Homo sapiens: one gene and its partner. The protein of the gene in region 1 interacts with the protein of each later gene in a pairwise test. Each region holds a gene or a part of one and is shown on either strand. Other genes may lie near its edges.

Region 1 (3,251 bases):
GTATGGTATTGGATTTACCAACATGGTGGAAAGGACCACGCCCGGCAGCAAAGATCTCTCCAGGTAAGTACACAGCATTTGCTTTTATGGGTTGGAACCTTGAGTATGCTGGTGCCCCAAATATTCTAGGAACATCATATGTATCTAGTTCAAGCTGAGCTCAACAAATGTACAATATGCTCTTTCATTGAAAGCTGTCTGAATTTAGCATATTATAAATATTGTCATATTTATATTTTTGACTACTTTTTAATTCAATTTTAGTAAAGAATTTCGTGAAGGAGGACGTATTCTAGTACAGAAATTACAGAAATATCAGCCACGAATAGCAGTGTTTAATGGAAAATGTAAGATTTACTTTTAAATTTTTTTTTTCTTTGCTAACATTATGGGCAATGTAAATATGTTTGTATTTCATTTTAGGTATTTATGAAATTTTTAGTAAAGAAGTTTTTGGAGTAAAGGTTAAGAACTTGGAATTTGGGCTTCAGCCCCATAAGATTCCAGACACAGAAACTGTAAGTCCCTAAAATTGAATTTGTAAATCAGCTAAATGTGAATTTTTTTCTAGATAATTTCCTTATTTGTCCTATCCATTGTGATTTATACCATGCAAAACAATTACACTGTATTTTGTTGAATAATACCTATACATCAGCTTTAACTAATAGTTGTAAATTAATTCAAATACTATTAGGGTTTATTAGAAAGAAAAACATTTGTCAGCTAAATGTCTTGATGTTGTTATTCAGTGAAAATATTGAGAGGAACTGGCTCATATACTACATTCAGAATACATTTAATGGCATGTAGTTGTCAAATTCAAATGGTTTAGCCCTCGTACTGTTGTGAAACAAACATGGAAACACAGACATGATCCTGATTAGGAAAACCAGTTGCCCCATTTATATATCTTAGCTCAACTTCATTTTAGAGCCATATAAATAATACAACCCAGACAAGCCTCCAGCCAACCTAACTGGCATTCAATACTGTTGTCTTATACACAAAGTCATCATGAAATAACAGTGTTTTTCAAATTGTCCTCTCTACAGAGCTTCTGCAGGCATTTGGTTCCAATTTTGCTTCTTAGTTTTAGGTTTTATTTACAACTTTTAAAGAACAACACAGTGCACAGATTTACATGTTGTATATACAACATCTTAACTGATGGAGAAGCTAATTTGCTGCCAGGTTTTTGTGGAAACCTAAAAATGTTTCTGCCACCTAAATATATTTAAATTTCTCCTTTAAAATTGTTTTTGTTCATAATTTCTTATAAATATGCAATTGATGAGTTTTATTATAGCATTGGTTTTTGCTTAAATAAAGGCCCACCTTTGTCTGCTTGGTTAAAATGGTACAAATTCACTACCTGTAGTGAATTGTAGAGAAATTCCTGTAGAGTACTGTGTCATTCTCTGTTACATGCCATTTGGAGGCCGGGCGTGGTGGCTCATGCCTATAATCCCAGCACTTTGGGAGGCCGAGGCAGGCGGATCACCTGAGGTTAGGAGTTCGAGACCAGCCTGGCCAACATGGTGAAACCCCATCTCCACTAAAAAATACAAAAATTAGCCAGGCATGGTGGCATGCGCTGTAATCCCAGCTACGTAGGAGGCTGAGGCAGAAGAATCGCTTGAACCCAGGAGGCAGCTCATTAGGCGGAGGCTCATTATTTTTCACTTCCTGACTTGGTAATAAGTCAGTATTACAAATTCAACCTTAAAAGCAACTACTTTTATTGATTTTTACATATATTTATATGTAGTTAAGTATCAAGTTATTAACCCAAATAAAGACAAATATTCTAATCTCAATGAGTGAATTCAATAGAATTATAAGATTTCTGAAATTATAAAATGTTGTGATTCTAGCTCTGCTATGTTATGCCATCATCCAGTGCAAGATGTGCTCAGTTTCCTCGAGCCCAAGACAAAGTTCATTACTACATAAAACTGAAGGACTTAAGAGATCAGTTGAAAGGCATTGAACGAAATATGGACGTTCAAGAGGTGCAATATACATTTGACCTACAGCTTGCCCAAGGTATGTTACTGTCCTCATTCCTTTTATTCATTTTGTGTGTGTATATATACACATATATACTTACATATATATACACATATACATATATACATATACACATATACATATGTGTGCACATATATGCACACGTGTATATATACATGTGTATATATACATATATACACATAAGTATGTATGTCTATATACATATATGTGTGTATACACTTGTGTGCGTATACATATGTGTGTGTCTATATATAGACACATACACACACACACACACACACACACACACACACACACACACACATTACAGAAAGTATCTTATGGATTTAAAAGCAGGAAAAAAGAAAACAATTATATTCGCAGCCAGAGTGCTCTGATAATGAATATTAGTCACTGTTAAAATCTCCTTTTACCAAGGTCTTCCCTCTACTCTGGCACTTCTGCAGATAATTCACCTGCAGAGTGCCAGAGCAGAGGGATGTAAGAAATATTGTACCCTACGTAAAGTTGAATGTAAGCGGTTTTTACAGTTCTTATGTGTTTATTTAGTACATGCTATAAGTTTAAAAGATTAATAGAGATGTATCTCAGTGTATATGAATATTCAAGAAAAAGAATTGTTCATGATTTCTGAATAAAGCTACTTTTAAAATTGTTGTACAAAATCAGATTTAAATCCTTTTTACCTTCCTCACAGAGGATGCAAAGAAGATGGCTGTTAAGGAAGAAAAATATGATCCAGGTTATGAGGCAGCATATGGTGGTGCTTACGGAGAAAATCCATGCAGCAGTGAACCTTGTGGCTTCTCTTCAAATGGGCTAAGTATGGTTCCCTCCACATGTGTATTCCTTTCAAAGACGGTTTGGTCAGGATTGGGGGGAAAATTTTAATAGAAGGAGAGTAAATTATTGAAGAATGGGAATGATAATATGAAATTTTATTTAGTGACTAATAGTGAAAAATTGATGGTTATTTCACGTTGAATTACACAGACTTTTACAGTACATTTTCTTTTTTGTTTGTTTGTTTTTGAGACAGATTCTCGCTGTGTCACCCAGGCTAGAGTGCAGTGGCTCGATCTTGGCTCACTGCAAGCTCCCCCTCCTGGGTTCACACCATTCTCCTGCCTCAGCCTCCCGAGTAGCTGGGACTACAGGCATCCGCCACGATGCCTGGCTAATTTTTTTTGTATTTTTAATAGAGACAGGGTTTCACC
Region 2 (4,043 bases), on another chromosome or scaffold:
TGTTTTGATTTGCTCTAAGTGCTAGTTGCTGAAACAAAGCATAGAGGAACAGTTCTTTTATATTCCAAAATTTGAACCCTGGTTGCTGACAGACATCCTAGAGGATTACCTTCTTGTATGTTATTAAGAGTTACATATTGTGGGAATTATGGAAATTAAAAATGTGGTTTAGGAGAAGATAGGCTGAGGATTTTACATAAGAGGGTAGTTTTTAAACAAGGTAGTGTTTTTAAGAAATGTGTATTTTAGTATTCGTAAAGCCAGTTCTAGATTGTATTACTGATAAATGATCATTTAAGAGTTCATAAGTATGAATTCCATATTCCTTACTTGTCTCTAATTAGCAAACACTGAATTCCTGGTCTCTACCAAGTTGCTTAGTTACATAGGAAACTAGGGTACCCTCATCCTTGAATAATCTTTCTCTAAAAGATTACAAGGTTAATTTTCTCAATTAAAATCATAAATTTAAAATACTTTTATGTAATATCAGCTCTCTACCAGGTATAAAACTTGAAAACCTTTTCACAGGGAGAATGAAGTTGAAGAGGTAAAAGAGGAGGGTCCAAAAGAGATGACTTTGGATGAGTGGAAGGCTATTCAAAATAAGGACCGGGCAAAAGTAGAATTTAATATCCGAAAACCAAATGAAGGTGCTGATGGGCAGTGGAAGAAGGGATTTGTTCTTCATAAATCAAAGAGTGAAGAGGTAAAATTAAGTTTTGTCGTGTTTGAAAATGTTCAGATGTGACTTGAATTGTATTTATAATTTTTGTTTTAAAATTTCACATGGGTTATTTGTCTGTTAAAGCTTTACATAGGATCATTTGGGGCAGATAATTTGCTTTATAAGGAAAATAAACTGTATTATCACATATTCTAAGAAATTTAGTCCTTTGATCAATTTGTAATTATGTTTTATGTGGTAGAGTTACTTTTTCCTAAAAAGCTGTTAGTGGAGTATCTTGTAGTTATTGGTGTTCAGAAATATGATAGTTCTTTTCAAAGTTGTGGTTGTATTTTTGAAATCTTGCCAAACTGGGGATCATTAAAGGGCTGTGGTATTATGGTGTTAGGTTGAAATCTTGACATTTTCATATGGTTTAACCTAAAATGTAAGTGACTTCATTTAGAATTCAACTTTTGAAACTGTCTGCCTATACCATATATAATGGCCAGGACACTCAGTAAATGGCAATGTGCATTTTGTCTAAGGAATGACGACTTTAAAAACCAAAGTATATGTGGGTTTTACTTAAGAAACATGGAAACTAGTGAAAATACAGTTGACTTGTTGAACAACATGAGGATGCTAGGGGCACTGACCCCGCAGATCAATGCACATGTAACCTTTGACTCTCCCAAAACTTAACTACTAATAACCTGTTGACTGAAAGTCTTAGTGATAACATAACCAGTTAACACATTTTGTATGTTGCGTATTATATACTGTGTTTTTACAGTAAAGTAAGCTAAAGAAAATGTTGAGAAAATATATTTACTGTTCATTAAGTGGAACTGGATCATCACAAAGGTCTTTATTTTGGATAGGAAGAAAAGGGATTGGGCTTGCTTGTCTCAAGACTGACAGAGGCAGAATGTTCAAAGCCACGTTGTTCAAGGGTCAACTGTATTGGAGAAAGTCACATTGATGGCTTTTGATTTGGTAGCTTCCGTTTAAGCTTTGGGGTGTGTTCTTAGAGGAATGTTTCAGTGCGGCTTCCTGTTTGGCTTTAAAAACTCATACAAGCCCTAACTATATTATTTCTTCTCCTAAATTCATTTTCTCTATCAGCTTCCTTTAACCTTTTGACATTTGTGTTTGATTTATTCATATCATAAATTGGGCTGTGCCAGAAATCCAGACTGAGTTTTATCATCCTAAGGTAAAGTTAAATTAAAATATTGTGAGGGCAAACCCTTTCAATAAGGTATTAGTTATTTTTATTTTTTTTTTTTGAGACAGAATCTGGCTCTGTCGCCCAGGCTGGAATGCAGTGGCACCATCTCTGCTTACCGCAACCTCCACCTCCCGGATTCAAACAGTTCTTGTGTCTCAACCTCCTCAGTAGCTGGGATTACGGACACTCGCCACCATGCCCGGATAATGTTTGTGTTTTTAGTAGAGATGAGGTTTCATCATGTTGGCCAGGCTGGTCTCAAACTCCTGGCCTCAGTGATCCCCGCCTGCCTCAGCCTCCCAAAGTGCTGGGATTATAGGCGTGTGCCACCATGCCCAGCCAATAAGCATAATTTTTTAAACTGCAAAATGGCTATAAGACAAACTTGGAAACATTTTAAAATAAAATGGAGGTTAAAAAGATTAAAAGTTTTTTTAGGTTTAGAGATGATTTTTAACATTTACTTCATATGAGTAGTAAATGAGGACATTGTCTTTTTTAAGTCCTGTAGAAAAAAAACTGCATTAGAACACGTGGTTTCAGCCAGGCGCAGTGGCTCACACCTGTAATCCCAGCACTTTTGGGAGACTGAGGCGGGCGGATCACCTGAGGTCGGGAGTTCAAGACCAGTCTGACCAACATGGAGAAACCCCGTCTCTACTAAAGATACAAAATTAGCCTGGTGTGGTGGTGCATGCCTGTAATCCCAGCTACTCAGGAGGCTGAGGCAGGAGAATCACTTTAACACAGGAGGCAGAGGTTGCAGTGAGCTGAGATCACACCACTGCACTCCAGCCTGGGCAACAGAGCAAGACTGTCTCAAAAAAAAAAAAAAAAAAAAAAAACAACACTTTAACTTTCACATGTCTTCATTCTCGTGACAAATGTGAGGTAGTTAAGGGGAAGGAAGAAACTATTTACAAATGGAGAACTGTGTTACCGTGTTATTGACAGAGCTCAGAGTTTCTGTTTTCTGCTCCTCATTGTCTGAGTGCTCTAGAAAAAAGGTCGGACACAGTGGCTTACACCTGTAATCCCAGCACTTCGGGAGGCTGAGGTGGGCAGATTGTTGAGTTAAAAGTTTGAGACCAGCCTGGGTAACATGGCAAAACCCTGTTTCTACAAAAAATATAAAAATTATCTGGATGTGGTTGCGTGCACCTGTGGTCTCAGTTACCTGGGAGGCTGAGGCGGGAGAGGATCACTTGAGCCCAGGAGGCAGAGGTTGCAGTGAGCCAAGATAGCATCACTGCATTCCAACCTAGTTGACAGAGCAAGACTGTTTCAAAAAAAGGAAAAAAGAAAAAAAAAAAGGATCCCCCTGCCCTGACTTTATCCCAGTACAGTTTCTTGGTATCTGCAGGGGATTCGTTCCAGGACCCAGAGATATTAAAATTTTCAGATGCTCATGTCCATTATATAAAATGGCATAGTATCTGCATATAGCCTAAACACGTTTTCCCTATACTTTATTTTTTATTGTTTCTATTTTTTAATTTAAAATATAGAACAATTTACAGTTTTGCGTGTCATCCTTGTGGGGATCATGCTAATAATCTTTGTATTGTTCCACTTTTAGTATATATGCTGCCAAAGTGAGCACTCCCTCATACACTTTATTTTGAGACAAGGTCTTGCTCTGTCATGTAGGCTGGAATGCAGTAGCATGGTCACAGCTTACTGCAGCCTCAACCTCCCCGTGCTCAAGCGATCCTTCTAGCTCAGCCTCCTGAGTAGCTGGAACTACACACCTGTGCCAACTCCTGGACTCAAGCAGCCCTTCTGCCTATGCCTCCCAGAGTGCTGGGATTACAAGTGTCAGCCACCACACCTGGCCTACTTTTTATTGTTATATGGTTGGTTGGTTTTATTTTTTTCTGAATATTTTCGATCTGTGGTTTGCAATAAATTGAAAGCATTGGTTTGAAATAGCAAACATTTAAAAATCACACAATTAGTATATATAATTGATTCTAATTTGCTGGTGTTTTGTGAATTTGTTTTTATGTTTCTAGCCTCCTTTAAAATTTGTATTAGAACATTCTATTGCCTTACAGTGTGTTGGTTTGGTACAAAGGAGTGACATTTAATACTAGTATGAGTTGATGTAAGGGGTGAAAACATGGATAAAAACACAAAAAT

What was found.
Region 2: the proteins of TDG (region 1) and SERBP1 interact in a two-hybrid assay, tested with the Homo sapiens proteins (one study listed by BioGRID).

What each region holds. Positions count from the first base shown.
Region 1 is NC_000012.12:103,982,872-103,986,122, forward strand, and holds part of TDG (G/T mismatch-specific thymine DNA glycosylase), read left to right. Parts: coding exon 1-63; intron 64-264; coding exon 265-347; intron 348-423; coding exon 424-518; intron 519-1,877; coding exon 1,878-2,049; intron 2,050-2,731; coding exon 2,732-2,857; intron 2,858-3,251. UniProt on the Homo sapiens protein: DNA glycosylase that plays a key role in active DNA demethylation: specifically recognizes and binds 5-formylcytosine (5fC) and 5-carboxylcytosine (5caC) in the context of CpG sites and mediates their excision through base-excision repair (BER) to install an unmethylated cytosine.
Region 2 is NC_000001.11:67,416,675-67,420,717, reverse strand, and holds part of SERBP1 (SERPINE1 mRNA-binding protein 1), read left to right. Parts: intron 1-531; coding exon 532-709; intron 710-4,043. UniProt on the Homo sapiens protein: Ribosome-binding protein that promotes ribosome hibernation, a process during which ribosomes are stabilized in an inactive state and preserved from proteasomal degradation.